Linked DNA regions of Homo sapiens: all the other regions are reported to be linked to region 1. The links are microRNA targets in miRTarBase. Many come from high-throughput screens and were not tested one by one. Region 1 holds a microRNA gene; each other region holds the end of a gene's coding sequence.

Region 1 (4,071 bases):
TGGAGTAAGGAAGCGGAGCCAACAATGGCATCTTCTCAAGTCGGTTTTCCTTTGGAAGCAGTGTAGGGCAGGCCTCAGTGTTGTCTCCTGGCCAAGGCTGGTGCTGGTGATAGTTATGTCCACCCGCTTTCCCCTGTCCTTGGCAGGGGCTGCACCCAGGGGCATGCCGGCACTTCCCAGTGGCCCTAGGTGTGGCCCCAGCCCACCCAGGAAAAAGCCCTTAGCTTGGAGAGGAGGGTGGGGCCCTGCTCCCCACCCCACTCACCTCCTCCTCTCCACAGTGGACCCCCTGGCCCAGGTGACTCAGCTATTCCGGGAACATCTCTTAGAGCGAGCACTGAACTGTGTGACCCAGCCCAACCCCAGCCCTGGGTCAGCTGATGGGGACAAGTAAGTGTCGTTGTGCCCTCCTCCAGGCAAGGCCCCTCCGGCGGGATTCTGAGAATAGCTCTGGCCTCAACCCTGTGGAGAGAGCCCAGAGCTGGGCTACCGTGCGTGCCATGCACGCTTCATTCCTCTCTGAGTTTCCTCTCCCCACCAGCCTGTGGGAGGAGACAGTGGCACTTTGCAGAGCCAGGGGCCAGGCTGTACTCTGGAGGGCAGGTGGGGAGCACCCTCCTAGGACCCCTGCCATCTGTTCCGACAGCCAGCTCTCTCCTTCCACAGGGAATTCTCGGATGCCCTCGGGTACCTGCAGCTGCTGAACAGCTGTTCTGATGCTGCGGGGGCTCCTGCCTACAGCTTCTCCATCAGTTCCAGCATGGCCACCACCACCGGTGAGTCCCCGGCCCCTGTCCTGGCTCCCTTCTCAGCTCCCCCGTGCAGCGTGACTGAGGGTTCAGGGGACCCTCCCTCTTCTGCAGGCGTAGACCCGGTGGCCAAGTGGTGGGCCTCTCTGACAGCTGTGGTGATCCACTGGCTGCGGCGGGATGAGGAGGCGGCTGAGCGGCTGTGCCCGCTGGTGGAGCACCTGCCCCGGGTGCTGCAGGAGTCTGAGTGAGTGCACGGCAGGTTCCTCCTGCCTGGTCCCGGGCTCAGCCTTCCTCATCCCCTGGGCACTGTGCCTCACTCAGCCTTTGTTCTGTGCAGGAGGAGTCACCACCTTTTTTCCTCAGGGAACTCGAGCCAGGGAAGTGGGGGGCACTCAGCCAGGGCTTGTGGACTGGTCTGACTGGCACTCTTCTGCCCTGGTCCCAACAGGAGACCCCTGCCCAGGGCAGCTCTGCACTCCTTCAAGGCTGCCCGGGCCCTGCTGGGCTGTGCCAAGGCAGAGTCTGGTCCAGCCAGCCTGACCATCTGTGAGAAGGCCAGTGGGTACCTGCAGGACAGCCTGGCTACCACACCAGCCAGCAGCTCCATTGACAAGGTGAGGGGTGGGGTCAGGGGCCTGGCAGGGCTGGGGGATTCAGCTTTCCATTCCCTGGTTCCTCTCCCCAGCCCCCAGGGGCTGCAGAAGACCATGGGGTTAGCCCAAGCAGCACAGGATAGGGGGTCCAGCAGACCCTGCTTTTTGGCTAAGGCTTCTGTCCAGAGGAGAGGGGTTGCCCCTATCTGGCCTCAGTTTCCCCATCCCTGGGAGGAGGGGGGTGGATGGTGTGGTAGGATCCCTTTGGAGGCCCTGCATCAGGAGGGCTGGACAGCTGCTCCCGGGCCGGTGGCGGGTGTGGGGGCCGAGAGAGGCGGGCGGCCCCGCGGTGCATTGCTGTTGCATTGCACGTGTGTGAGGCGGGTGCAGTGCCTCGGCAGTGCAGCCCGGAGCCGGCCCCTGGCACCACGGGCCCCCATCCTGCCCCTCCCAGAGCTGGAGCCCTGGTGACCCCTGCCCTGCCTGCCACCCCCAGGCCGTGCAGCTGTTCCTGTGTGACCTGCTTCTTGTGGTGCGCACCAGCCTGTGGCGGCAGCAGCAGCCCCCGGCCCCGGCCCCAGCAGCCCAGGGCACCAGCAGCAGGCCCCAGGCTTCCGCCCTTGAGCTGCGTGGCTTCCAACGGGACCTGAGCAGCCTGAGGCGGCTGGCACAGAGCTTCCGGCCCGCCATGCGGAGGGTGAGTGCCCGATGGCCCTGTCCTCAAGACGGGGAGTCAGGCAGTGGTGGAGATGGAGAGCCCTGAGCCTCCACTCTCCTGGCCCCCAGGTGTTCCTACATGAGGCCACGGCCCGGCTGATGGCGGGGGCCAGCCCCACACGGACACACCAGCTCCTCGACCGCAGTCTGAGGCGGCGGGCAGGCCCCGGTGGCAAAGGAGGTGAGGGGGCAGCTGCTGACCAGGGATGTGCTGTCTGCTCAGCAGGGAAGGGCGCACATGGGATGTGATACCAAGGGAGGCTGTGTGTGTGTCAGACGGGACAGACAGGCCTGGCGCAGTGGCTCACACCTAGCACTTTGGGAGGCTCAGTTGGGAGGACAGCTTGAGCCCAGGAGTTGGAGGCCGCAGTGAGCCTGAGTGACAGGGAGAGTCCCTGTCTCAAAAAAAAAAAAAGACCAAGCATCTTCTTGATGGTTACCTGATGACAATTCCTTTCACAAGGAATCAGTGGGGTGACTGTCATTTGTGGGATACATGACTGCACGTGCGTGACTCAGTCTGTGGACTTTGTGTGTGGGCTGAGACTAGGGTGGGGAGAGGGGAACCCGCCAGGCCCCCGCCAGGTACCTGTGTGCCAGGTACAGGCGGCTGGTGCCGTGGCTTGTGTGTGGGCAGGGCTCCCGCGGGGGCGTGGCCAGCTTGAGACCCATCCCTGACACATCCTCGTGTGCGCAGGCGCGGTGGCGGAGCTGGAGCCGCGGCCCACGCGGCGGGAGCACGCGGAGGCCTTGCTGCTGGCCTCCTGCTACCTGCCCCCCGGCTTCCTGTCGGCGCCCGGGCAGCGCGTGGGCATGCTGGCTGAGGCGGCGCGCACACTCGAGAAGCTTGGCGATCGCCGGCTGCTGCACGACTGTCAGCAGATGCTCATGCGCCTGGGCGGTGGGACCACTGTCACTTCCAGCTAGACCCCGTGTCCCCGGCCTCAGCACCCCTGTCTCTAGCCACTTTGGTCCCGTGCAGCTTCTGTCCTGCGTCGAAGCTTTGAAGGCCGAAGGCAGTGCAAGAGACTCTGGCCTCCACAGTTCGACCTGCGGCTGCTGTGTGCCTTCGCGGTGGAAGGCCCGAGGGGCGCGATCTTGACCCTAAGACCGGCGGCCATGATGGTGCTGACCTCTGGTGGCCGATCGGGGCACTGCAGGGGCCGAGCCATTTTGGGGGGCCCCCCTCCTTGCTCTGCAGGCACCTTAGTGGCTTTTTTCCTCCTGTGTACAGGGAAGAGAGGGGTACATTTCCCTGTGCTGACGGAAGCCAACTTGGCTTTCCCGGACTGCAAGCAGGGCTCTGCCCCAGAGGCCTCTCTCTCCGTCGTGGGAGAGAGACGTGTACATAGTGTAGGTCAGCGTGCTTAGCCTCCTGACCTGAGGCTCCTGTGCTACTTTGCCTTTTGCAAACTTTATTTTCATAGATTGAGAAGTTTTGTACAGAGAATTAAAAATGAAATTATTTATAATCTGGGTTTTGTGTCTTCAGCTGATGGATGTGCTGACTAGTGAGAGTGCTTGGGCCCTCCCCCAGCACCTAGGGAAAGGCTTCCCCTCCCCCTCCGGCCACAAGGTACACAACTTTTAACTTAGCTCTTCCCGATGTTTGTTTGTTAGTGGGAGGAGTGGGGAGGGCTGGCTGTATGGCCTCCAGCCTACCTGTTCCCCCTGCTCCCAGGGCACATGGTTGGGCTGTGTCAACCCTTAGGGCCTCCATGGGGTCAGTTGTCCCTTCTCACCTCCCAGCTCTGTCCCCATCAGGTCCCTGGGTGGCACGGGAGGATGGACTGACTTCCAGGACCTGTTGTGTGACAGGAGCTACAGCTTGGGTCTCCCTGCAAGAAGTCTGGCACGTCTCACCTCCCCCATCCCGGCCCCTGGTCATCTCACAGCAAAGAAGCCTCCTCCCTCCCGACCTGCCGCCACACTGGAGAGGGGGCACAGGGGCGGGGGAGGTTTCCTGTTCTGTGAAAGGCCGACTCCCTGACTCCATTCATGCCCCCCCC
Region 2 (4,000 bases), not on the chromosome of region 1:
TCCCCTCCATCTCTTTTCCTCACCCAGAATTCCCCTACACCCCGTCTCCTCCCGAACATGGGCGGCGCGCCGGGCCGGTGCCCACGGCCATCATTGGGGGCGTGGCGGGGAGCATCCTGCTGGTGTTGATTGTGGTCGGCGGGATCGTGGTCGCCCTGCGTCGGCGCCGGCACACCTTCAAGGGTGACTACAGCACCAAGAAGCACGTGTATGGCAACGGCTACAGCAAGGCAGGCATCCCCCAGCACCACCCACCAATGGCACAGAACCTGCAGTACCCCGACGACTCAGACGACGAGAAGAAGGCCGGCCCACTGGGTGGAAGCAGCTATGAGGAGGAGGAGGAGGAGGAGGAGGGCGGTGGAGGGGGCGAGCGCAAGGTGGGCGGCCCCCACCCCAAATATGACGAGGACGCCAAGCGGCCCTACTTCACCGTGGATGAGGCCGAGGCCCGTCAGGACGGCTACGGGGACCGGACTCTGGGCTACCAGTACGACCCTGAGCAGCTGGACTTGGCTGAGAACATGGTTTCTCAGAACGACGGGTCTTTCATTTCCAAGAAGGAGTGGTACGTGTAGCCCCCCTTCCAGAGCCTCTGTCTGTGACCGCTCCTCCCCAGCCCCTCCCCGCACGCCCCCTGCCCACCCCCCACCTCCCACTCCAGGAGCTGAACAGAGACTTGCCCAGCTGCCCAAAGCCAGCCCCGAACTCCTGGGGGGCCAGGGGAGCCCAGGGCAGCCACGACTTGGCTTTGTGTTTTATTTCCTCCCTCTCCTCCGCCCTTCCCCATGGTGTTGTGTTCGACTGTGGCTTTAGTGTTACTGTATCTTCCCTTTACGGGCCCCACCTGCCTGCCCTCTGTGTAGGGAGCCCTGTTCTCGTCTTGTGTACCTGGGCATCCCTCCAGGGTTTGGGGAGCCAGCCTCCCCCGCCCCCCTACACTGGAATTTGTTTGTGTTTCTTCACTGGGGGTGGAGGGCTCAAGGGGCTCTAAGAGGGAAAAGCTCCCCACACCCCCAGATGCTGCTCCTCCTCCCGGCTAGAGGGAACCCAACACCCACCAGTGAAATCTGATGCAGCTGGGAGTTTGGACCTTGGGTCTAGACAGCTGGTGCGCCCAAGAGGTAGGGGGAGGGGTGCGGCTTCTCCCCAGTTCCCAGGGAGTCTTGTTTGTTAAGCGGGGCCTTGGGCAGTGTTTTCCTGCTGAGGGTGGTTTTACATTTTTTTTCCTCATTGGCCCACAGAGAGTGGAGTTGGCCTAGCTCTGACGCGTCCCCTCTTTATCCCCAATGTGCCCCCTCCATTAGGGGCTCCAGGTGGGCTCCAGCCCACACTTGCTCTCTGCCTCTGCTGACACGTGCACACACACACACATGCACACACTGCTCCTCTCTGCCTGCTTTCCCCTGGAGTCCCATGCCCTGCCCCATCCAGACACTGCCCAAGGCCCACCCGTCTATTTCCACCTCATTCCCCCTTTAAGCTGAGAATGGGGTCTGCCTATAGAAGCTTCCAGAGACAGCTGAGACTGGGTCCCCGGTGCCTCCACCCTAGGATCTCAGGCCTGCCCCAAACTGCTTCTTACAGCGTGGAGGTTTCTCTGATTTCTCCCTTATCTAGCAACACTTGGTTCTTTTGGCTAGTCAGGGCTGGGATCCCAGGGGGATCCACCTGCAGGAGTCAGAGGTAAAGAAGCATCCACACGGAGGGTAGTGGGGAAGGAAGCCCACATGGCAGAAGCTCTGCAAACACAGTCCGAGGGACTGAGGAGTCCATACAATGCCTCACACACAAAGGCCATTGTCAAAGCCTCGGGCCTGGCAGAAAGTGAGGGGGGTGGGGCCGCTAGGCCACCTCCTGCTCAGCCACCCCTGGTCCTCATTCTGGGATGAGGGGAGGGCCTAGGAGAAGCCCTCCCTTTCAGTGCAGATTCCCTTCTTGAATGGGACATTGAGTTCCTATCAGCCACCCCAGACTGGGTCTTCCCATGTATATAATGGAGGAAGACCCCTCCCAGCCCTCTCAGTCCCCCAGCTCAAAGTGCCTCAGTTCCTCCATCTGCTCCCAGATCCCCTGGCACTCTAGACAGGCATGCCCATGGGAAGGACCCTGGGATGGAGAGGCAGGCTTCGCGGCCCTTCATGCCTGCCCACTGGGATTCCAGTTAACTCACCCCAGGGTGTCAGGGGCTCTGCAGGATGGCAAGTGTTGGGGAGGAGGGAGGCAGACCACTCTGTGCCCCACGGGCACTGACCCACCCTGCCATAGGCTTCCTAAGGGAGCCCCCCAACCCCTCCCCTCCCCTCCCTGGTGCTGCTATTGAACCCCCTGCCAGCTCCATTTCTGCCCTGGCAACCCTGGGCCCAGCAGGTGGGTCGTCGTTGTCTGGCCCTCACTGCCCTGGCCCCAGCCCAGGCTGCCCAGTAGCCACGTAGCAGAAGTCTGAAGCCATGCCAGCCCTGGTGCGGCTCTCCCCTCTACACATTTGGGGTACTGGATAGGGTGAAGTTAGGGGAGAAAATTGTGGAGTCTTTCCAGCCACAGGGCAGAGGGAGGTGGAGGAGCTGGGCTGCTTTTCCCAGCAGTATTAGTGTCCCCCAGGACAGGGGACCTTTTCCACATTACATCACTGCCCCATCCCACCTTACAACACTCTGGCCCCTCTGCTTGGTCCCCTTTTCCCCCAGGCAGGAGGCAATCCCAGGGGCCTGCCTGATAGAGGCATTTCCTGTCCCTGTCTCCTCCTGCATCTCCTTTATCCTGCACTGCCACCCTCTATTCCCCATTCTGTGTTGGACTTTGAAGGCCCCAAGCCCAGCCAAAGCACTGAGTTCCCCCTTAAGACACCTCCACACCCTCCCCACAAGCAAAGCACAAATTTTGGGGTCCATGTAGCATGGGCCACGTAGGAGGCTCCTGACTTGCCAGGGGCCCAGCCTCAGCATACCCACCGAGCAGCTGCCAGCCTGGGCTGAGGGTGGGCATGAGGCAGGAGTCAGCACTTGGACCTAGGGATGTGAGGTTTTCTGTGCCCCAAGTTTGTGGGAAGGTGGGCACTACTGCTGGGCCCACAGACACAGCCAGCTGGCAAAAGGGAGGTCTAGCCCAGCAGAGAGATGAGGACATTTTGCTTCTCCTTCATGCCCACAGCATGAGCTGAGCTTCTGCTTTGCTGGAAATGAAATAAACTTGGTATGAATTGTGCCAAGGCCTCCCCAGTTGTCATCCTGCCTCTTGTTGCCCTCCCTGTCCTTGCCCCCCACCCCACACCCATGCCCCTGTTTCCTTACAGATTTTGATATTGTTCTAATGTGTAATAGAACCAGCCGAGTCCCCTTTTATCAGAAGGGTCTGAAAAGCAGCAGCACAGAGTAGGTGAACACAGGCCTGCAAGTGCGACCACCTCAGACCCAGTACGTGTGCCCACAGTGGACACACTCACACCTCCAACACACCCACGCGCAGGCATGTGTACACGCATGTACACACGCATGCATGCACAGCCAGATGGCCACTCAGCACAGATGTGGCAGAGGGAATGGTCTGATCCTGCTGAAAGCCATTAAGGAGAAACGAATTTCCCAGTGCCCGGGCTGCAAGAGAGCCTTATAGGGGCCCTGTTTCCTGGGCATGCGCTTCCTCTGCCAGCCAACCCCCACTTGCCCAAGTCACTGGTGCAATAACTTTTCTGCCTTCCTCAGAGCAGAGAAATTGGGAATTGTGTTAGGTGGGTGTGGGCAGCTCTGCTGAGCCAAGCAGACACGGATGTCCCCTCTTCTGGGAGGAGGGTAGTGCTCCCAGGCCTCAGGAGTCCAGACAGAGACCCCCAAAGCCTGACTGCCAACAGAAACCCTCTCCTAGTGAGGGGCAGGTGGGTGTGCCCCAGGTCCCCACACCCACAGGGAGGCTTCACACACTGCCCAGTACCGGGGATGCCAGGAGGCAGGCCCCTCTGCTGCTGCCACTGCTGCCAACACTGCCCAGCTTGTGAGGCCAGGAG
Region 3 (4,071 bases), not on the chromosome of region 1:
CAAATGCTACATCAATTATTGTTCTGCAAATAATATATTACCTTGAGTTGTTCCAAAGGTCTTATGTTTATTGGCTGGAATTTTCCAATAGCAATGAGGAGTCAAGGAAGAGTTTCCTACTCACCGGCAGCATCTGGAATAGCAGACCAACTTTCCTCATGCTGGGGAGCAAATCAGGTGTTGCAGCTAAGGGGCCATGCAAGAAGAGCTGCAATGGCCATTCCCTTCACCTGGCTACCTCCTCTACTCTACAGGGCACCGAGCCCAATGGAGAAGGTTGGGAGTGGAGTAGCAGTGATGTGATGAATTACTTTGCATGGGAGAGAAATCCCTCCACCATCTCAAGCCCCGGCCACTGTGCGAGCCTGTCGAGAAGCACAGGTAAGAAACAGAGGAGCTGCCTCTTCCCAGTGTTTTCCATCTCATCCCCCATTCCTGGGTCTGACCTTCAGGAAATCTTCCTGAGCTAGAAAATACAATGTTAGTGTGTCTTCTCTTATCTCCTCTCTTCTCCACTTTCTTTGAATCTCTCTCCTGGATTGGGACACTGGTGAAGGTGAGGGAGAGGCTTTAACTTCTAGGCTAAAACCTGGGATGCCCCTTCATTGGATTCACAAGCTTCCTCAGCCCCATTCCATTTATGTCTTCTGTCTCTCCAGCATTTCTGAGGTGGAAAGATTATAACTGTAATGTGAGGTTACCCTATGTCTGCAAGTTCACTGACTAGTGCAGGAGGGAAGTCAGCAGCCTGTGTTTGGTGTGCAACTCATCATGGGCATGAGACCAGTGTGAGGACTCACCCTGGAAGAGAATATTCGCTTAATTCCCCCAACCTGACCACCTCATTCTTATCTTTCTTCTGTTTCTTCCTCCCCGCTGTCATTTCAGTCTCTTCATTTTGTCATACGGCCTAAGGCTTTAAAGAGCAATAAAATTTTTAGTCTGCACTTGTTTGTCTTGTATATGCCAGTGTCATAGCCATACTCTGAGAAGGACAAAGTGTTTGAGTGGAGGAAACTTTATGGGTCTTGCTTCTTCCCTATTCACCCAGGCCTCTAGGGAAAATGATGAAGTGTGCATCCCTACCAGTGTGTTATGATGAGGGTGTGGGTCCTGCTCATGTAGGATTTGTGTTGTGGAGAGATGAGGACATTTCTCTCCCGCGTACTTACTGCCCTCCCATTCCCGTAGCCCAAACCTGACAGTGTGACATGAACAGATTTAGGAGGCTCTGATGGTGCTTAGAATAGTACTTCTCAGAGAATGGCATCAGCAGGATGGTAGATAGGACTTTCCAGCTCTTGAACCTTCACAGAAACATTCATTTGAACTACTACCCATTAAAATGGAAATACCTTCACAAGAGCTAACAATCCCAAGTGAGTGATTAAAGCATCTGAATGTTGCAAAAAATAAGAAAGGATGCATCGAAGAGGGTAGAAAGAAGACTTTTACATTATTTATATCACCCCTCCATCAATCTCAGTAAGCACAGCATGGAGAGACATTCCCTAAACTTGGGGAAAGAGAGTGAAATAAGCACTTGAGTTTTCCATGGACCCTAACACTAGGTTTGCCTCAGTAAGACCCAGTGGCCTCTGACTCCAGGCAGACACCCTTGGACTTAGACTCCAGGCTGCCTTGATGCCAGGCCAGGCTCTGTGGCCCCAGGCTCTGTGACCCCAGGCTCCAGGTCAGCCCCCATGACTGCAGCCTCCAGTCTTGCCCCAGAAGATGCAGGCTCTAGACACACACAGCATCATGCTTTTCCCCATAGCTCCAGACCACAGGCCAGCACCCACTGACAAAGACTCTAAGCCCACCTCAAGGACAAGCTAGCACTTGCAGCCACAGACTCCAGGGTGACCCCTGAAATCCTAGACATCAGGCCTGCCCATGTGGACCTGCCCTTCAGACCCACCACAGCTCCAGGATAGCTCCCACAGCTACAACTTCAGGCCAGCACTTGCAGACCCCAGCTCCAGACTGACACTCACAGTCGCAGGATACGGTCCTGTCAAATCCCAAACCCTCCCCAAGCCTTTAGGTCCATCTGAGCACAAAGCCCTGATGCTAGGCCAGCCTCTGTGGCCTCTGTCACTAGGCCAGCCCCCACAGACACAAGTTCTGGATTTTCCCAGTTCCAGGCGAGGCTCTGTGGACTCGGTACTAGTCTGGCCTCATACTCCAGCAGACCCAGGATCAAGCTTCATTACAGTAGACCTTAGCACCAGGCCAGCCCCCCCGACTCAGGCTCCAGCCTTAGCCCCATGAATCCAGTCTCCAGACTTACCCCAGAGGCAAGTTGACATTCATGGTCCCAGGCTACAGGCCACCCCCACTAACCCTGGCTCCATACCAGCCCCTGTAGTTTCAGGTACCAGCCCAGTATGCACAGACTCAAACTCCAGACCTGTCCTAGAGACTCAGATACTACATCTGTCCTAGTGCCTGGCTAACCCCTGAAGACATGGGTTCAAGGCCTGCTTTAGAGCCAGATTGGTCTCCAGGAAGTAGGATTTAGTCTGGCTCCTGTGATTAGAGGCTTCGGGCCTGCCCTCATGAAGTGACTGCCTACCCTGGTATACCAAGTCAATAGGTCCACTTGAGGATGCCAGCAGCAAGCCTGCCCAAAGACCAAGCCAGATGGCCTGCCCAGAATCTCTGGATGACTGACTGGTGAAGGGCTTTGTCTGCTAAAGCCAGTCTGTAAAAACTGGAATAAGTGACTACTTGTTCAAAAAGTCAAACACCAAAGACACATGACCACAAGTATCATAAACAATCAAGGAAATATGATATTACCAACAGAACAAAATAAAGGACTAGTAACTGACCTTAAGGGGAAAGAATTTTACAAACTGCTCAACAAATAATTTAAAGCAATTGTCTAAAAGAAACTCAGTGAGCTACAAGAGAATACAGATAGACAACTAAATGAAATCAGAAAAACAATATGTGAACAAAATCAGAAGGTCAAGAAAGAGATTTGTTTTAAAGTTAAAAAAAAACACATAGTGGCTGAACTGAAGAAATGCATGGAGAATTTCAACAGCAGACTTGATCAAGCAGCAGAAAAAGTCAGTGAGTTTGAGACAAGTCATTTGAAATTATCCAGTCAGAGAAACAAAAAGAAAAAAGAAACAAAAAGAGAAAATAAAGCTTAAGGAAACTATGGTACATGATCAACTGAGCCAATATATATATTATGGGTTTTCTAGAAGGAGCAGAGGCAGAAAATGGGCAGAAAACATATATAAAAAATAATGGGTCATGGGGTTTGGCATCCCCATGCCTGTCAGTGCCTCACCCCAGCCAACGAGCATGCACCCAGCCATGCTGCCACTGCCGTGGCATGAGCACAGATCCCACTGCTATCACCCTGACAGAGTACTGTGGTCACTGCCACTTACTGGAGTGTTGTGGCCAGCAATCCAGGAACACCTTTGGACCCCCAGCACAGCAGGTTCCTAACTTCGAGGGGTGAGAGAACAAAGCTAGGGGCCTGATAATAGCATTCCAGAATTGGGGAATGCTGAGCTGAACCTTGGCCCACTGACATCTTCCAGAAATGAAGTGAGTCAACTGAGCCCACCTTATACCACAATCAAACCCCCAAGGGCATCAAAAAGGATAAACACACACACACACACACACACACACACACACACACAATCCATCCAAAAAACAGCAACTTCAAAGATTAAAGGAACGCCAGCCCACACAGATGAGAAAGAACCAGTGCAAGAACTCTGGCAACTCCAAAAGCCAGCGTCTATTTTTACCTCCAAACAATTACACTAGTTATCCAGCAATGGTTCCTAACCAGTCTGAAATATCTGAAATGACAGAAATAGATCTTGGAATATGGATAGGAACCAAGATTATTGAGCTTCAGGCAAAAGTGAAAATCCATTTCCAGGATTCTATACAATAAAACGATACAGAAAATGAAAGATGAAATGGTCATTTTAAGAAAGAACCAAACTGATCTGATAGAGGTGAAAAACTCATTTCAAAAATTTCAGAATACAATCACAAGTATTAACAGCAGAATTGATCAAGCTGAGG
Region 4 (4,071 bases), not on the chromosome of region 1:
TCCTGATGGCTGGCATGGACCTCGGGCCCTGCCAGGGCGGTGTCAGCATGGACACAGCTTCTCCCACCTTGACACATTGTCTCTGCTTCCCCAGGTGCAAACTCTACAGCGGCTCTGCAGACTGCACCATCATTGTGAGTGGGGCCTACAGGCGGGTGGGCAGGAGGCGGCCCAGGCCCGCCCCAGTCTGTAGGTGCCCCAGGGACGTGTTTCTCCCCGTCTGGGCTCCAGACTCCAGGTGGCAGGGCTTGGTGCCCTGAGGCTGCCGGTCCTTCCCCAATCAGGTGTGGGACATCCAGAACCTGCAGAAGGTGAACACCATCCGGGCCCATGACAACCCGGTGTGCACGCTGGTCTCCTCACACAACGTGCTCTTCAGCGGCTCCCTGAAGGCCATCAAGGTACGGGTGGAGGCTGTGCCTACGTGTGTGTCACTGAGGCGTCCCTTGCCCGCCCAGCCCACAGTTGCAGCAATCCCTGCAGGTCTGGGACATCGTGGGCACTGAGCTGAAGTTGAAGAAGGAGCTCACAGGCCTCAACCACTGGGTGCGGGCCCTGGTGGCTGCCCAGAGCTACCTGTACAGCGGCTCCTACCAGACAATCAAGGTGCGCTTGGGCACACCTGGTGGCCACAGGGCCTTGCCTCCTACCAGCACTTCCCAGGCCAGCACCTGGGGCTCCATCTGCCCTGTTCCTACCTTCGCACATCCCCTGGCTGGGTGGGTGGGCTGCCCAGCAGTGCTGAAGCCCTGGGGGTGCGGGGGCCCTGGGGGTGAAGCACCTGGCCTGGGACCAACTGGCCCACGATTACTCATAGATCTGGGACATCCGAACCCTTGACTGCATCCACGTCCTGCAGACGTCTGGTGGCAGCGTCTACTCCATTGCTGTGACAAATCACCACATTGTCTGTGGCACCTACGAGAACCTCATCCACGTAAGGCCTGGGCATCTGGGTGCAAGGCCAGACTGTGGCCCCGTCTCCCCCGCCTTGCTCAGTGTCTTTGACCTGCCTGTGCCCACCCCTCCCAGGTGTGGGACATTGAGTCCAAGGAGCAGGTGCGGACCCTCACGGGCCACGTGGGCACCGTGTATGCCCTGGCGGTCATCTCGACGCCAGACCAGACCAAAGTCTTCAGTGCATCCTACGACCGGTCCCTCAGGGTGCGTGCTGGCCCAGCGGTGGCAGGAGGCTCAGAGGGCTGGCAGCTGAGCTCCGGCGGGCCCTCACGTCCCATGTGCCCCCAGGTCTGGAGTATGGACAACATGATCTGCACGCAGACCCTGCTGCGTCACCAGGGCAGTGTCACCGCGCTGGCTGTGTCCCGGGGCCGACTCTTCTCAGGGGCTGTGGATAGCACTGTGAAGGTCAGTGCCCGTGGCTCAGGCCATTCAAAGGGGCTGCACAGGATGGAGCGGGGGTGGGGACGAGGAGCTGGCAGCCCCAGCACAAAGTGGTGGAGGGCAGGTACGTGTGGCAGGTGTGGCTGGGGCAGGGCAGCCGGCCGCAGGACATCCTGGTGAAGCAGCCCTTTCTCTGCAGGTTTGGACTTGCTAACAGGATCCAGGCCAGGCTGTGGTTTCCCCTGAACCAGCCCTGGACCTTTCTGAGCCAGGCTGGCCACATGGGGTGGTCTCGGGGTTTCTGCCTGCCCCGTGGGCATAGGTGGACAGGCTCTGGCAGCCGGGCAGTGCCCTCCCCGTCCCATGCTCGGCGAGCCTCCCTCTACTCGGCACTGTCCTTGCTGCCCAGCCCCTCTCTGGGTGCCAGGTACGACGCTTGCCCCGGCCCACCCTCCATCCCCACCCTCCATCCCCACCCTAGATGGAGCGAGGGCCTTTTTACTCACCTTTTCTACCGTTTTTAGACTGTATGTAGATTTGGTTACCTCCTGGTTGAAATAAATGCTCCACAGACTGTGGCTGTGAGTGGGGACAGCTCCTCGGGACAAGGGGGCTGTGTGTGGCCTTGAGGTTGGTGTGCACAGGCACTGGCTGCTGTGAGTGGGGGGGCATGGGGCAGTTTCCTTTGGTGGACCCCAGGACTTCGGCCCACTCCGGGGCCTCCCCTCCCTGCTAGGAGGCAACTCGTCACACCCAAGCTGCTGGCCTCCAGTCCCATCTCCCCCAACACATGTGCCCCCAAAAAGTGAGCCAGGCACCTCTGTTTCCTGCTGTTTATTGACAGCCGACGGCAGCGCCTTGCCCAGACCTCCCCTGCCCACCTGCTGGAGCCCAGCCTGTGCCGCCCTCTGAGGAGAGGCCTGGGGGGACAGCTGGGCACGTCCACTCGCAGGGAAACACGGGGTGAGACAGCAGGAAGGGGCCCTGCACGCCGGGACGCCACCTCCGCCAGCCGCCTCCACCCGCCCCACACCACAATCGCTGGTTTTCGGCATTTTTTAAATTTTTTTTTTAAGAAACGTCAAAGTTGTGCCCAACACTGTGGATCAGCAAACACGATAGAGGAGACCAGTCAGTACTTCTTGGAGGGGGCAGGAGGAGAGAGGAAAAGGGAGGGCGAGAATGACCACACAACACAGCCTTGGACCATGAGCAGAAGCGTCCGTGGGAACTCCACTGGGGTGGATGGGCTGCCTGCACAGCCCCTGGAGAGGGGGCCAGGCACACCCTCAGAGGAGCTGCAAGCCCGTGGCCTGGCCTGCTACATGCCCTGCTTCCACGTGGCTGCCACGCTGACACACCCACATTCACCAAACCCACCCGCGCCCTGGGACGCAGCCACGCCAGGAGGAGGACACGGCCGCCGAGAGCAAGGCACAACCTCGAGTTCTTGGGGCGCAGAGAACTTAGGAGAGAAGCACGGAGGAGCCCCCGGCAGAGCACCCGCCCCCGGGCCCCAGCCTTCCACCTGTGCTAGCAGCCTGGGGCCTCCACTCTGGCCGGAGGAAGGACCGCAGGCAGACAGCCTGGGCCTCTAACAGCTTTTGTCCGGAGCTAGACTTCGTGTCCTTTCAGTTGGTAAATGGTTTTCTATAGAATCAATAATATTTCTTTCTTTAAATATATATTTGTTAAAGTTATACCTTTTTGTTTCTCTGGGGAAATCCGCCTCAGCTCATTCCCAATAAATTAATACTCTTGATAGCTTATATTCTGGGGGTGCGGTGGGGCAGGGGGGCCCTGACCTTGGTCCCCTGTCCCTTGTGCTGCGCCCGAGCGGCTGGCCGGGCGTCCCGATGGGCAGTTCTGTGCTGGGCCCGGGCCTGTGCGCTGCCCCATCCCTGGTCCCGGGGCGCCCTCCCCTCCCGCGCGGGCAGGAGGCCCAGCAGGTATTGCACGGGGAGCAGCAGGTGGGGAGGACCCGCGGGCGCAGGGTCTGCCTAGAGCCCTTGGAGCCCCCGGCCAGGCGGTCCCCGGTGGGCGCCCCGGCCCGGGTCCAGGGGCCGGAGTTGTGCTTCTGCAGGGCCCTGCCCGGCCGCTCGCGCCGCGCCCAGACGCGCCCATCCTGAGGTATAGGTCAGTGTGCGGGGAGGGCCCGGGCGGCGCGGGAGGGCCCGGCCAGGCGGCGTTCACTCCAGCATGGCATCCAGCTGGTCGGCCAGGTCGTCGAACATGCTGCCGATGTCGTCCAGGATGCTGCCAGTGCTCTTTTCCGCCGCCGAGTCGCTGCGGGGCGCGGGGCAAGGGGCGTGAGTGGGCGGGGCGGGTCTGGCCACGCCCACCCCGACCAGGACACGCCCACGTCCCGCATCTCCGTCGGCTTCCGCCTACCGCACGACGACCTCGGCGGAGCCCCGCTCACGGCACGCCCATCTCTGCCGAGCCCCGCCCATCTCTGCCGAGCCCCGCCCATCTCTGCCGAGCCCCGCCCATCTCTGCCGAGCCCCGCCCTCCGCCCGCCAGGCCCCGCCCCGCACCTACCGCGGGCCCTGCGCGTCCTCCTGCCGGATCTTCTCCTCCACCGCCTGCAGCGCCGCGGCCAGGCACGCGCTTGTCTCCTCCAGTTTCTGCCGGGCGCTGTCCCCTGGCGAGGCGCCTTCGGGCGGGGCGGGGGGCGCGGCGGCGGCGGCGGCGGCGGCGGCGGCGGCTCGCGGGGGCTTGGCGGGC
Region 5 (4,071 bases), not on the chromosome of region 1:
TGCGGGAGACCCGCTTCGTTCTTTCCGGTTAGGCATCTTAAACGCTGCTGATGGGAACGGTCTCACGAGGTTCCAGCAGCCTGAACACTACAACGAAGGCGGCGCGGGCGCTGCACCCGCCAGGCCCTCCCTACCTGCTGCGGACGTCCTTGCTGCGGATGGGCGCCAGGAGGCTGAAGGAGGATTTGGCCGAGCGAAGGGAACAGTCGTCGCAGGCCAGGGGGCTCCGCGGCCGGCCGGGGCCCAGGCTGCTGTGGGCCCGCACCAGGAGCGGCTGCGCGCGGAGCTTGTAGTCTGCAAGATCCGAGTCGACCTTGTTTGCTGTCCTCAGGGAGTCGGAGGCGATGTCCAGGCTCAGGGCAGGCGGTGGGCGCGGGGGCAGCAGGCTGGGCAGCCTGGGCGAGCTCCCCGCCACGGCGGCGTCTCTGTGCGGGAGGTTCGGGGAGCTGCTGGCCACCCCAGAGAGAGGGTTACCCCCCGAGGACGGGCTCCCTCTCTCACTGCTCAGGACCCCGCGGGACTTGGGGATTTCCTGCAAGGAGGTGCTCAGGCAGGGCGGGGAGCAGCTGTGGGCGGGGGCCCCGGGGCCCTCGCTCTGCACTGAGCCCCTGGAGGGACTGGTCCCATTCCGGGCTTCCAGGTCCTCCTGGCTGCCTCGAAAACGCCTCCTCCTCCAGCCCTTGTCGTCCAGGGACAGGGCTCGCTCCAGTCGAGGCCTGGCGGGGGGCCGCGGGGCGATGGGTGCTGCTCGGGCTGGCGGGTCCTCGCCGCTGGGCGTGGCCGGAGTGCTGCAGGCAAGCGCGGGGCTCTCGGAGCCCGGAGCATCGGGTGGGGACCCCGCGCGCTGGGCCGGCGGAGCGCCGGGAAGCTGTCCTTGGAGCGTCCTCCCTTCCGGCGGCTGCGGGGCCGGCTCGGAGGGCCGCAGATTCTCCGCCTTGGACGGCATGGACGGTCTCTCCCGGGGCAGGCCTCGGCGCGAGGCCGCAGGCAGCGCGAGGGGTCACGGGTGCCGGGTCCGGGGTCGCCGGCGCAGCGAGGAGCAGAAACGCCGCTGCGGCTCCCGCTTGGGCCGGGGATGGTCGCGGAGGGGCGGGGGCGGCTGCCGCATGGCCCGGGCCCCGAGTCCCGCCAGCCCCTCGGGGCTCCCAGACGCCGTTCCCAGGGCGGTCCGCAGGCAAGGCCTGGGGGAACAGGCGGCTGGGCGCCTGTCGCGGGGGAGGTTCGACCCCGACGGGGACGCCGCTCGGGGAGAGGGGTGGGAAGCGGGCACCCCTGGCTGGGCTCGCAGACTCCGAAGTCGACCCGGTACTCGCGGAGGCCCGGCCGCCCAGAAGCGGAGTCAGCCCGGCCGGGACCCAGCAACCGCCGCCGCGGGGCCGCGCCCGGTCCCCGCCCCGCGCCCCGGCCCCGCCCACAGCGGCCCCTGGCGGCCGGAGGACTGCGCCGCACCGGACCCGGACGGGTCTCCCACGCCCCTCCCAACCCGGCAGCCCCGCAGTCCGGCAGGTCCCAGCGAGGCAGGTGCAGGTCCCCGGAGAGGACCTGGGTGCGGTCCAGGACAGCGCCGAGGCCTGCGGACACCTGCACTCACTCGCTTCCAGCAAACCAAAGGGAACCACAGGTGAAGGTGCTTGAAGGAGCGCAAAATATTTTATTCAACAATTTGCAATGTAACAATTCTCATTTAGGAAAAATAGCCGCTCCCGCCTGGAGGAAGCTTCTTGAATCAAAAGTCGTGGCAGTCGACCCCAGAACAGCGGGCAGAGCCGACCGGAAGAGGTCCCAGGATTCACACGAGCTGACCGAGGGACAGAGAGGGCTGCCCCGTCACAGGGACTGGCCTTTCTCCAAGTGACAAGGACAAATGGATCCAGCGGGACACGCCTGTGGAACATTTTGGAAAACATCCTGGGTGGTCTGGGCTAAATGATCAAGTGAAACAGAAAGCCAGGAAGGATCTGTGCTAATTCCACATTCTACAATTTCTACACTTAAATTTAAAACACCAAACAGTTTGTATTCCTCCAGCAGAACCTACAGAAATTATCTACTGATTTTTATTAGTATTTAAATCTTTTCTTCAGTCTCTTTAGACTTGACAAGAATACGAAGAGTTTCAGAACAGTCAGAGAAGCCTTAAAGCTTTGCATCAGTGAGAGGAGGCCCGTCTCTGAGTTGAACAGGGTTGAGTCCACCAGGAGCTACTCAAAGTCTCAGTGTGGCAAAACTCGGGGCAGAAATACTAAGTTCCAGAGCTGCTGTCAAGAAACTGTGTTAAGATACTCTCCCCAAGTGCTACCAACCTCTGAACCAACGTCCCCCAGGGGAGAAAGTGGGTCATGTGGATTGTACCACGAAAAGTGCTCACGGAAAGTGCAGCCTTTTAGAGAAGTGCATCCAGCTTCCTTAACAGTGAGTCTAACCGTGCTCCTACACACGAAATGAAGCCCAAATCAAACATCACACGGTCAGTTTTCAACCTGGATGACCACCCTGAGCCATCATGTCAGACAGCCGGCTCTCTGGGGCTCCTTCCCAGTGACTGGGCCACACGGTGGGCAGTCCCCAGCGCTTTGGGTACACAAAATCACCCATGGTCCTCATCAGGCCACAGAAAGTAAAGTGAGGCTGGAAGCGTCTTTGCAACAGGAAAGAAATTCACTGCAGTAACTAAGGCCTCTCTCAAAAACCGTGAACTAATGCCGAAGGAACCCCACGGCTCCTCGGAGGCGCTGATTGAGAACACAGCGCCCTCCACTCATTCAGCCAGGTTCAAACACGGCGAGGGCCCAGATGGTGCAGAGCAGGGGTTGGGGTCTGCCTCAGTCACCCTCTCTTTGCTCCCAGCACCTTAAAGGAAGCGCGGGACTCACTGGGCAGTGACTCACAGCTGGGCTTGGAGAGGCCCTGGTTACTACCGACCATGTGGCTCTCCTGTGGCAGAGACAGCTCCGGCTTCAATGAATGAACATTCTTAAATGACCAGGAATACTATATCCTTAAATCATCCTAAATGACTAAGAAAGTCACATCATTCTTTTCGGCAAACAATTCTGAGTCAAAGATTCAGTCTTTCCATCCAGAATCTGAAAGGATGGTGGAATTAATTTTCAAAATAATTCATTACGATGGGCGGTGAGGAGGGAGGCACAGTGTGCGACCAGCTCTGAGTCACTGCTGTGTCTCCCTGGGGGCGGGACGGAGATCGCGGAGGTCGGTCGGGTTCTTCGGGGAGAACAGCAGCGTCAGGGCTCCAAGTGCAAGTTCACAGCAGGGCAAGCCTAGTTCAGCACCAGGTGCTTCCTCTGGCCAATCCTCCCTAGCCTTGAGCTCCCGGAGGTGGCGCAGGCCTGGAATGAAATCAACAGCATGACCTCTGCATGCCTGCCCCCAGGGTGAGCAGTGCTCGGCTGCAGCGTGGCAGGGGCTGGTCCACATAATGAACCACACGGGCCATTGGCGCTGACAAGCTGAAGGCTTCGTTTTTGTTTCCAAAAGCCTCTGGAAACCGACAAGTCAGTGCCAAGTCCTGGGCTCCCTTGAAAGCACTGTATCCTTAACCATCAATGTTTACTGTGAGGGTGGCCAGGAGGTGCCGTGGTTTCATCAGGGCCATGAGACCTGGAGCTGCTCTGCAGAGCCAGCCTGGCTGTCCAGAGTCCAGGGACAAGTGGTGGCCAGGCCTGGCCTACTGCATGGGACGCGGGGACCTCAGTTGCAGACAGCTGGCCAATGCAGGCATCCACTCTTGCTCCCTCGCAAAGCCTCATGGAGGGGAAAGCCAAGGAATTTTTGTAAAGGCACTAACCACATGGTAAAGGGAGCAGGACAATACCAAAATCGACTAGTCTGGATGCTGAAAAGCAGGTGACAGCCAGGGGCCAGCTTGGGGGCAGTGGTCCTGGGAGCCTCGGCCTCGTTTGTAGAGGACCAGGGCAGGAGTGCTGGGCCCCAGCCCAGGAAGCCTGCAGTCAAGAGTGTGTGAGGCTGTGAGGGCAGGCTGGGGTGACAATGGGGCTGAATCCCAAGAGGCCCCAGACCTTGGACCCCGCTCAGCTCCCCTACACTGGC
Region 6 (4,071 bases), not on the chromosome of region 1:
CTTAAGCAGAAGCATTAACTTCTCTGGAAAGGGGGGAGCTGGGGAAACTCAAACTTTTCCCCTGTCCTGATGGTCAGCTCCCTTCTCTGTAGGGAACTCTGGGGTCCCCCATCCCCATCCTCCAGCTTCTGGTACTCTCCTAGAGACAGAAGCAGGCTGGAGGTAAGGCCTTTGAGCCCACAAAGCCTTATCAAGTGTCTTCCATCATGGATTCATTACAGCTTAATCAAAATAACGCCCCAGATACCAGCCCCTGTATGGCACTGGCATTGTCCCTGTGCCTAACACCAGCGTTTGAGGGGCTGGCCTTCCTGCCCTACAGAGGTCTCTGCCGGCTCTTTCCTTGCTCAACCATGGCTGAAGGAAACCAGTGCAACAGCACTGGCTCTCTCCAGGATCCAGAAGGGGTTTGGTCTGGGACTTCCTTGCTCTCCCTCTTCTCAAGTGCCTTAATAGTAGGGTAAGTTGTTAAGAGTGGGGGAGAGCAGGCTGGCAGCTCTCCAGTCAGGAGGCATAGTTTTTACTGAACAATCAAAGCACTTGGACTCTTGCTCTTTCTACTCTGAACTAATAAATCTGTTGCCAAGCTGGCTAGAGATCCGCTTTTTTTCAGCAAACACTGAGCACACATTTTGCTAGTCACATCAGGCCAGACATTGGTGGTAGAGAGCTGGGTGAATGCGTGCACTGTCCTCTGAGAGCTTGCAGTCTGAGAATGCCCTTGGAAACCCCGAGTTACCGTCCAGTGGATGAAAACGGGCAGCTAAGGCAAGAGTCCTAGCACACTGAGAGCCTAGTAGAGCCCGCTGGCTGTGGGGATGGAGCAGTTTCAGGAGTCTTCCAAGAGGCCCCATTAGCTCCAGGTCTTAGATCAGCTGAGAGTGGATGTCAAAGAGGGACTAGCCAGCGTCAGAGGTAAGAGAAACGATGTTCGAAAGATGTGATGGGGCCAAATTCCTTGGGTGGCCCAGGGAGTGTGTGCTTCTCTTGGGGAATGTGTGGTGCCAGGTAAAGATCTACCCGGCCCACCGATGCTTTGATACTCTGTTCTGGGAGGAACGGTGAAATCTTCAATCCACAGCCTCAGGAAGCCAAAACAAAGGCCCAGCCGCAGCCCACAAGGGCTACAGCTGGACGTACTTCCGCTTTGCCCCAGCGCAAGCGCAGCAGCAAAAAGCGCTGGCCGGCGTGGGCCCCCTTCTCGACTGCGCAGGCGCACAAGGAGCCCGCAGCAACCGGAGGCCGGGTCCAGCGTCTGGGGAAAATCCCCGCCGAGGCCGATGGCGTCTTCGTTTGGGCTTCGCACCGTCGCGGGAGGACAATAGCAGGGGAAAAGGAGTTATCGTCAGCGGGACGCGTCCCAAAATTCAGCGAGTCTCCTAGGAACAGAAAAGGCCCTGGGTGCAGGCTCCGACGGGCGGCGCCGGCGAGACGGCAGGCCAATTCCGTCGAGGAAGTGGCGTTTTCCACGGGGCTCCGGCTCCGGGGGGGCGGCCAGGGGCGGGGCTTGGAGCGAGGGCGGGCCTCGGCGGAACTCCCACGCGAGGGGCGGAGCCCGGGCTCGCGGTGGCCAGGTCAGGACCCGGGCGAAGCTGCCGGGGAGCGCCTGGGAGGCGGGGTCGGGGAGGAAGCGGGCGGGGTGAGAAGGCTCCTAACGCTGAGGAAGCCGACGGCTGAGCTGCGCAGGGACCCCGACCGGAGGTCCGCGACCCGAGGCCCAGAGGGAAACCAGGGAGCCAAGGCCCTGCAGCCCAGGCTGCGCCTCCCTCCTCTTGGCTTTCTCGGTCCCGCGACCTCCCGTGACCCACGAAGACCTCTCCTGGTTCTTCTCTCATTCGTGAATGACCCCATCATGCTCATGGCTCAGCAGCTCCAAGTCCTCGTATCCAACCCAGATCTCTCTCCCCTGCGCACCAGCCCCTGGACATCTCCACTCTGACGTCCTCGGGCCTCTCAAACTCATCCTGTTCCAAATGACCTCAGCCATCCCCAGCCTGCCTCTCCTTTTCCCTGTCAGCCCTGGCCCTGCCACCTTCCAAGGGCTCCAGCCGGAAACCTGGCCACTACCGTAGATGCCGCCTCTTCCCTTAGTAACTTGCGTCCAGTCCTTCCACGAGGTCCTGGAAAATCTGCCCACTTCTCCCCACTGTCACTGCTATCACTGAGTTTAAGTCACCACTAGACCTCCCACTGGACTGCGGCTACAGCCGCCTCCCTGCAGCCAAAGAGCTCTGACATCCAGATCTCACCCCATCAATCTCCCTTCAAACATCAACCACAAGACCAGATCCGAGTTTTCTGCAGACACACCCTCAGTGACCACAGCCTTCCACACTAGTCCACAACCAGGAAAAAGTGGCAGTCTTGGGAACTGCTAACCCAGGATCCCTAGTGCACCTTCACAACCCTTTCTGATCTGGCTTCTTTGACGCTGGGTTCCTGGGTGTGCCTTGGCTCTAGTCCAGCAGGCCTCAGCCAGACTGGTCCTACCAGGATACCTCTGACGTCTCTGCCTGGTGAACTCCTACCCAGCCTTCAAAACTCAGCCCTCATATTACCTCCTCCATGAAGCCTTCCTGATCCTCAGATGCTCTGTTTCTCCGAGCCTAGCTCATCCTGCCAGCACCTAAGTTAACAGACCCAGGGCCTAGGTCTCACCATGGAGCTTCAGCCAGCCTAGGGAAGGGACTGGAATAGGCATGAGATGCTGGGCAAGTCTGCCCTATCTGGGCCTCAGGTCCAGAAACCAAAGGATTTAGACAAAGTCCCAAGTTTGGACTTGATGATGCCACTTCGGGGAAAGGCCTGGCCTCGCGAGGAACAGAGAGGACCATAGGCTGGTGAGGAGGGAAGTGGGTCAAGGGCCCGTTTCCTCCAGGACATAGAAACAGCCCCAGTCAACTGAGGCGGAGATGCCACCGCCTCTGGAATTGGGCCCTGCAAGAAGTGGCCAGGTGGGTAGAGAGAGGACAAGGCCTGGGGGCTCAGTGGCTTCAGAGAGAAGAGTGAGGCCTGCACTGAGGCACAGGGCCTTGTGATGCACGGCCAGGGTAGCTGTGGGGTGTGGCCACCTGCTTCCCTGCAGAACCAAATAAACGTTATGGGAGAGAAGCCAAGCAGTGGCCTGGCCTCAGGGACCCCTCAGTGAGTGCCAGCCCATCTCTGAGCCAGTGTTCCCAGGGCCTGTCCTGACTGGTCCGAGGAGTTTGGCTGGGGCCTCTGGAGGCAAAACCCCTTGCCCTGCCCTGTCTTGGACACATGTTCAGACACAGACATCAGTGGCTTTTTTACTCCCTGAAGTCCTCTTTTCTCCACAGAATATTTACAAACAGGGAAGGGGTGGAGGCCACTTCCGCCACCAAATAAGGGGCTAGGGAGGGGGGCAGTGCTAAGACACGCCTCTGCGCAGGGAGAGTTCCTGAGGAGGGCCCAGTGTGACCACAGTGCCCTCAGGGGCCCAGGTGGTTCCAGACGGCTCAGGCCAGGTCGGCGGTGGGTGAGCCCAGCTGCTTGGAGGCCAGGAGGAGGCGTGTGGCTGCACTCTCAGACTCCGCCTGCAGCCGCCGGTTGTTGTGTCTCAGGCTCCGCACCTCCTCCTCCAGGGCCGCCCTGTCCGCCTTCTCCTGGGGTGCCGGGGAGACAGGAGTCAGAGCCGCCAGCCCCTTTCCTGGGGCAGCCCTGTGACTCCCCCCAAGCTCAGCCCACCCCTCACCTTCTGCAGGTCCTCCTGCAGCTTCCTGAGCATGGACTCCAAGTGAGAGACCTTCTCTGAGAGGTTCCCAGGCTCTGGCCTGAAGACATGGGGGTCAAGACTCAGCAGGACCAAGGCAGGGGGCAGTGCACCAGCTGACTCCCAGCCCCAGCTAATGAGAGGGGCCCCGCTGGTCTTCTAGGCATATGTGGCAGCAGAGCCCAGGACAGAGCTCCACCCCAGCAGACAGGCACGAAGGGGGGGTCATGTGGGCAGGTAAAGCGGCTGTGGGGAGTTGGGGAGCTTACTCAGCATCAGATTTTGGAGTTCCCTTAGGGTCTCCACTCTCTGGGATGGGCTGTCCTGTGGGGACAAAGGGA
Region 7 (4,071 bases), not on the chromosome of region 1:
GGGGGAAGGGGCAGGGCTCTCCCCTCCCATGCTGGCCCTGGCGTCAGATGCCACGTCACACCTGTGGTCTCTCCCAGGACACATTTGACATCCGGATCCTGATGGCCAAGTCTGTCAAGTACACGGTGAACTTCTTAGAAGCCAAAGAAGGAGATTTGCACAGGTACTGGCACCCACACTCCATCCTCCCAGGCCTGGCTCAGGCCGAAGGTCAGGGCCACCCCTGGCTCCCGCCGGCATCCTGCCGTCCCAGGGCAGATGGTGGGCGGGGGCCCCAGGCCTCTGCACCTGGCACCCCCTCTTCTCTCTCGGCAGCGCCTGTCTGGCTTCCCCAGCAGCCACTGCCCTTTGCCTTCCAGGATAGAAATCCCATTCAAATTCCACATGCTGCATTCAGGGCTGGTCCACGGCCTGGCTTTCTGGTTTGACGTTGCTTTCATCGGCTCCATGTGAGTGCCGCAGAGCAGCCCATGCTGCCTCCTCCCCACTCCCAGGGCTTCCTGCAGCTGCAACCTGGCTGGGGGGGTGGAACATGGCTCCAGGTTCCACCATCCCTTCCAATGGGAGTGAGAGCCTGTCTCGGAGCAAGAGACTGTTGTGGGTGGGGTGTGTGTGTGTGTGTGTGTATGTGTGTGTGTGTCCTGTGTTCCCAGTGTCTGTCCCTCATGGGTCTGTGTCTGTCTCTTGGCACATGTCAGGGTGAGTAGGGATCTCGTGGTTGCGGGCCCCTCGTGTGTACATGTATGCCTGCTCATGTTTGTGTCTGGGACTGCCTGGGGGCCAGCCTGTCTCTGCTCCAGGGTCCCAGGGGTCCCTGGCAGAGGGGGCAGGTGCTTGGGGAGGACTCAAGGCATACAAGGTGGTGGCTCCAGTGGTGGCGCCGGCCCAGTCAAGTATGTGCCTGTCCCTGCTCCACAGAATGACCGTGTGGCTGTCCACAGCCCCGACAGAGCCCCTGACCCACTGGTACCAGGTGCGGTGCCTGTTCCAGTCACCACTGTTCGCCAAGGCAGGGGACACGCTCTCAGGGACATGTCTGCTTATTGCCAACAAAAGGTGCGACTGCTCCCTGGGGCTGGTGGTGGTGGGCAGGGGTCCATCTGCCCAGCAGCTCATGCCACGGCCTGCACCCTGTCCGCAGACAGAGCTACGACATCAGTATTGTGGCCCAGGTGGACCAGACCGGCTCCAAGTCCAGTAACCTCCTGGATCTGAAAAACCCCTTCTTTAGGTAGGAGGGGCCCCTTGCCTGCACAGGGGGGCGCCCCGGCCCTGCAACCCCCTTGCCCCTGCCCATGGCTCTGTCTCTGCCATAGATACACGGGCACAACGCCCTCACCCCCACCCGGCTCCCACTACACATCTCCCTCGGAAAACATGTGGAACACGGGCAGCACCTACAACCTCAGCAGCGGGATGGCCGTGGCAGGTGAGCAGGGCCCACCCCAATGCCCAGCCAACCCGGGAGGCCGCCCTCGCCGCAGGCCTGGCCCCTCTGCCTCCAGCCCTGACGTCTCCCTCTCTGGACACAGGGATGCCGACCGCCTATGACTTGAGCAGTGTTATTGCCAGTGGCTCCAGCGTGGGCCACAACAACCTGATTCCTTTAGGTGAGTGTCCCCCAGGGCCAGGGGCAGCAGGGAGCCATGCCCAGGACTGCCCAGGGGCCGGGAAGGGCCTGTGGTGACCAGGGTCGGCCTCTGCTTGGTCCTTTCACCTTTTCCTCTTCCTGGGGGCTCTCGGCCGAGGCTCTCCGTCCTCTCTGCCTCGCTCTGCAGCCTGCTGCTGTGCATGGGCTGGGTGGCTGGGGGCGGTGACGCCGTCTCCCTTCCTTCTTTCCTCCCTCTCGCTGCGCAGCCAACACGGGGATTGTCAATCACACCCACTCCCGGATGGGCTCCATAATGAGCACGGGGATTGTCCAAGGTAACGAGGGTGGCGGGGGCAGGGCCCGTGGGGGCCGAGCTAGCGTGTGAGTCGCCATCCTCTGTCCGGCCGCCCGCCTGCCCTCTTGCCTGCCCTTTCTCTCTCTCTGTGACTCTGCCTGGGGGCTGGGCGGGCCAGGGCAGCCCCTCACTGCCATTGCCTGCTCCACAGGGTCCTCCGGCGCCCAGGGCAGTGGTGGTGGCAGCACGAGTGCCCACTATGCAGTCAACAGCCAGTTCACCATGGGCGGCCCCGCCATCTCCATGGCGTCGCCCATGTCCATCCCGACCAACACCATGCACTACGGGAGCTAGGGGCCCGCCCCGCGGACTGACAGCACCAGGAAACCAAATGATGTCCCTGCCCGCCGCCCCCGCCGGGCGGCTTTCCCCCTTGTACTGGAGAAGCTCGAACACCCGGTCACAGCTCTCTTTGCTATGGGAACTGGGACACTTTTTTACACGATGTTGCCGCCGTCCCCACCCTAACCCCCACCTCCCGGCCCTGAGCGTGTGTCGCTGCCATATTTTACACAAAATCATGTTGTGGGAGCCCTCGTCCCCCCTCCTGCCCGCTCTACCCTGACCTGGGCTTGTCATCTGCTGGAACAGGCGCCATGGGGCCTGCCAGCCCTGCCTGCCAGGTCCCTTAGCACCTGTCCCCCTGCCTGTCTCCAGTGGGAAGGTAGCCTGGCCAGGCGGGGCCTCCCCTTCGACGACCAGGCCTCGGTCACAACGGACGTGACATGCTGCTTTTTTTAATTTTATTTTTTTATGAAAAGAACCAGTGTCAATCCGCAGACCCTCTGTGAAGCCAGGCCGGCCGGGCCGAGCCAGCAGCCCCTCTCCCTAGACTCAGAGGCGCCGCGGGGAGGGGTGGCCCCGCCGAGGCTTCAGGGGCCCCCTCCCCACCAAAGGGTTCACCTCACACTTGAATGTACAACCCACCCCACTGTCGGGAAGGCCTCCGTCCTCGGCCCCTGCCTCTTGCTGCTGTCCTGTCCCCGAGCCCCTGCAGGTCCCCCCCCGCCCCCCCACTCAAGAGTTAGAGCAGGTGGCTGCAGGCCTTGGGCCCGGAGGGAAGGCCACTGCCGGCCACTTGGGGCAGACACAGACACCTCAAGGATCTGTCACGGAAGGCGTCCTTTTTCCTTGTAGCTAACGTTAGGCCTGAGTAGCTCCCCTCCATCCTTGTAGACGCTCCAGTCCCTACTACTGTGACGGCATTTCCATCCCTCCCCTGCCCGGGAAGGGACCTTGCAGGGACCTCTCCCTCCAAAAAAAGAAAAAAAGAAAAAGAAAGAAAAAATAAATGAGGAAACGTGTTGCAGCACAGGCAGTTTTCTTCTCCTTCTGCTCCCCTGTTTCTCATACCCCCAAACTCAGATGCTGGAGCTCAGGCCCGCCGTGTGTGCACCCAGGCAGGAGCGGGCGCTGTCCAGGCTGGGCCGCCCCCTTGGCTCTCCCTCCTGTTCCAGGGGAGCCATAGGAGGGAAAGCAGGTGGCCCGGGGGGGATATGGGGGCCCCAGCCCTGTCCCAAAGCTCCCTGCTCGGCTGCCCCTCGCCCGCCTTTATATAAATTCTCTGAATCACCTTTGCATAGAAAATAAAAGTGTTTGCTTTGTAAGAAAAGTCTGGAAAGTAGCAGAATCATCTCAAGGTGTCAAAGGAGCCTTCAGTCATCGTCTGGGGGGCAGGACAGGCAGAGGGGTTGGTCCACTTAGGTGTTGCCTGAAAGAAAGAATTGTCTGGGAGTGGCCCCAGAACCTCTCGCCTTGACTGGGAGTGGGAGGGCAGCCCCCTTAGCCCAGCTGGGAATAGTCCTTACCTGTGGGACCCGGGCCTTCCTAGGAGGGGGCCAGGGACTGCGGCAAGGTAGGGGACAGCGCGATGTTTGAGGGCAGAGATGTGATTTGGGGTGGAGGAGCCACGTTCTCCGGAGGCAGCGACTGGAAGAAGTACAACTGCACAAGACCCCTGGGGTCAGAGGCAGGGCCAGCCCATGCCCCCCTAGCCCCTCGGCCCCACCTGTGGCCACCCCAGACCCGTACCTTACAGCCCATGGCCAGGAGGGCGTGGAGCAGCACGACCACGGACAGCAGCACTGTGGCCACCAGCCTGGTGTCCTCACGGACCACGGGCCAG

What was found. The annotated mature microRNA hsa-miR-6777-5p reads ACGGGGAGUCAGGCAGUGGUGGA and lies in region 1 at 2,071-2,093, shown strand. An mRNA with a match to its seed (bases 2 to 7 or 8) in the 3' UTR can be bound and repressed. Matches are read on the target gene's strand: a 7mer-m8 pairs with bases 2 to 8, a 7mer-A1 pairs with bases 2 to 7 and ends in A, and an 8mer does both.
Region 2: miRTarBase lists NECTIN1 as a target of hsa-miR-6777-5p. Seed matches in the 3' UTR shown: 7mer-m8 at 623-629.
Region 3: the mRNA of REG3A is a reported target of hsa-miR-6777-5p. Seed matches in the 3' UTR shown: 7mer-m8 at 870-876.
Region 4: miRTarBase lists CASKIN1 as a target of hsa-miR-6777-5p. Seed matches in the 3' UTR shown: 7mer-m8 at 3,490-3,496 and 7mer-m8 at 3,302-3,308.
Region 5: miRTarBase lists SEC16A as a target of hsa-miR-6777-5p. Seed matches in the 3' UTR shown: 8mer at 3,228-3,235.
Region 6: the mRNA of SIPA1 is a reported target of hsa-miR-6777-5p. The part of its 3' UTR that is shown has no 7-base or 8-base seed match.
Region 7: miRTarBase lists YIPF2 as a target of hsa-miR-6777-5p. Seed matches in the 3' UTR shown: 7mer-m8 at 2,793-2,799.

The regions. Positions count from the first base shown.
Region 1 is chr17:17,811,540-17,815,610 of GRCh38, reverse strand. It overlaps MIR6777 (microRNA 6777), which reads left to right and starts at 2,066; the gene lies at 2,066-2,131. It overlaps SREBF1 (sterol regulatory element binding transcription factor 1), which reads left to right. Exons shown (of 19, transcript NM_004176.5): 13 at 282-390; 14 at 667-776; 15 at 864-996; 16 at 1,201-1,366; 17 at 1,842-2,042; 18 at 2,132-2,243; 19 at 2,760-4,071. The coding sequence ends at 2,989. MIR33B (microRNA 33b) reads left to right here and starts at 1,680; the gene lies at 1,680-1,775. RefSeq lists an enhancer at 2,296-2,854.
Region 2 is chr11:119,661,325-119,665,324 of GRCh38, reverse strand. It overlaps NECTIN1 (nectin cell adhesion molecule 1), which reads left to right. Exons shown (of 6, transcript NM_002855.5): 6 at 28-4,000. The coding sequence ends at 578. Among named protein-coding and RNA genes, the nearest start is that of NECTIN1-AS1, 47 kb to the left of the region's middle. RefSeq lists enhancers at 1-190, 191-729.
Region 3 is chr2:79,153,882-79,157,952 of GRCh38, reverse strand. REG3A (regenerating family member 3 alpha) reads left to right here. Exons shown (of 6, transcript NM_002580.3): 5 at 255-381; 6 at 660-947. The coding sequence ends at 727. Among named protein-coding and RNA genes, the nearest start is that of REG3A, 3.8 kb to the left of the region's middle.
Region 4 is chr16:2,175,017-2,179,087 of GRCh38, forward strand. CASKIN1 (CASK interacting protein 1) reads right to left here. Exons shown (of 20, transcript NM_020764.4): 19 at 3,886-4,071; 20 at 2,164-3,630. The coding sequence ends at 3,534. TRAF7 (TNF receptor associated factor 7) reads left to right here. Exons shown (of 21, transcript NM_032271.3): 15 at 95-134; 16 at 285-401; 17 at 484-606; 18 at 818-937; 19 at 1,033-1,164; 20 at 1,249-1,368; 21 at 1,544-3,113. The coding sequence ends at 1,558. Among named protein-coding and RNA genes, the nearest start is that of CASKIN1, 20 kb to the right of the region's middle. RefSeq lists an enhancer at 2,812-3,313.
Region 5 is chr9:136,438,474-136,442,544 of GRCh38, forward strand. It overlaps SEC16A (SEC16 homolog A, endoplasmic reticulum export factor), which reads right to left. Exons shown (of 32, transcript NM_014866.2): 32 at 1,632-3,350. The coding sequence ends at 3,282. INPP5E (inositol polyphosphate-5-phosphatase E) reads right to left here and starts at 1,372. Exons shown (of 10, transcript NM_019892.6): 1 at 135-1,372. The coding sequence starts at 946. RefSeq lists enhancers at 1-209, 151-260, 210-844, 845-1,478 and silencers at 551-1,040, 1,101-1,280, 1,331-1,530.
Region 6 is chr11:65,650,121-65,654,191 of GRCh38, reverse strand. SIPA1 (signal-induced proliferation-associated 1) reads right to left here. Exons shown (of 16, transcript NM_006747.4): 14 at 4,000-4,054; 15 at 3,713-3,791; 16 at 3,280-3,623. The coding sequence ends at 3,477. RELA (RELA proto-oncogene, NF-kB subunit) reads left to right here. Exons shown (of 11, transcript NM_021975.4): 11 at 1-591. Among named protein-coding and RNA genes, the nearest start is that of MIR4489, 3.0 kb to the right of the region's middle. RefSeq lists enhancers at 1-111, 852-901, 912-1,391 and a silencer at 1,452-1,691.
Region 7 is chr19:10,919,518-10,923,588 of GRCh38, forward strand. YIPF2 (Yip1 domain family member 2) reads right to left here. Exons shown (of 10, transcript NM_001321439.2): 8 at 3,978-4,071; 9 at 3,755-3,890; 10 at 2,676-3,657. The coding sequence ends at 3,774. It overlaps CARM1 (coactivator associated arginine methyltransferase 1), which reads left to right. Exons shown (of 16, transcript NM_199141.2): 9 at 78-163; 10 at 360-449; 11 at 919-1,056; 12 at 1,142-1,231; 13 at 1,317-1,429; 14 at 1,533-1,610; 15 at 1,858-1,926; 16 at 2,098-3,558. The coding sequence ends at 2,240. Among named protein-coding and RNA genes, the nearest start is that of YIPF2, 7.1 kb to the right of the region's middle. RefSeq lists a silencer at 1,515-1,694.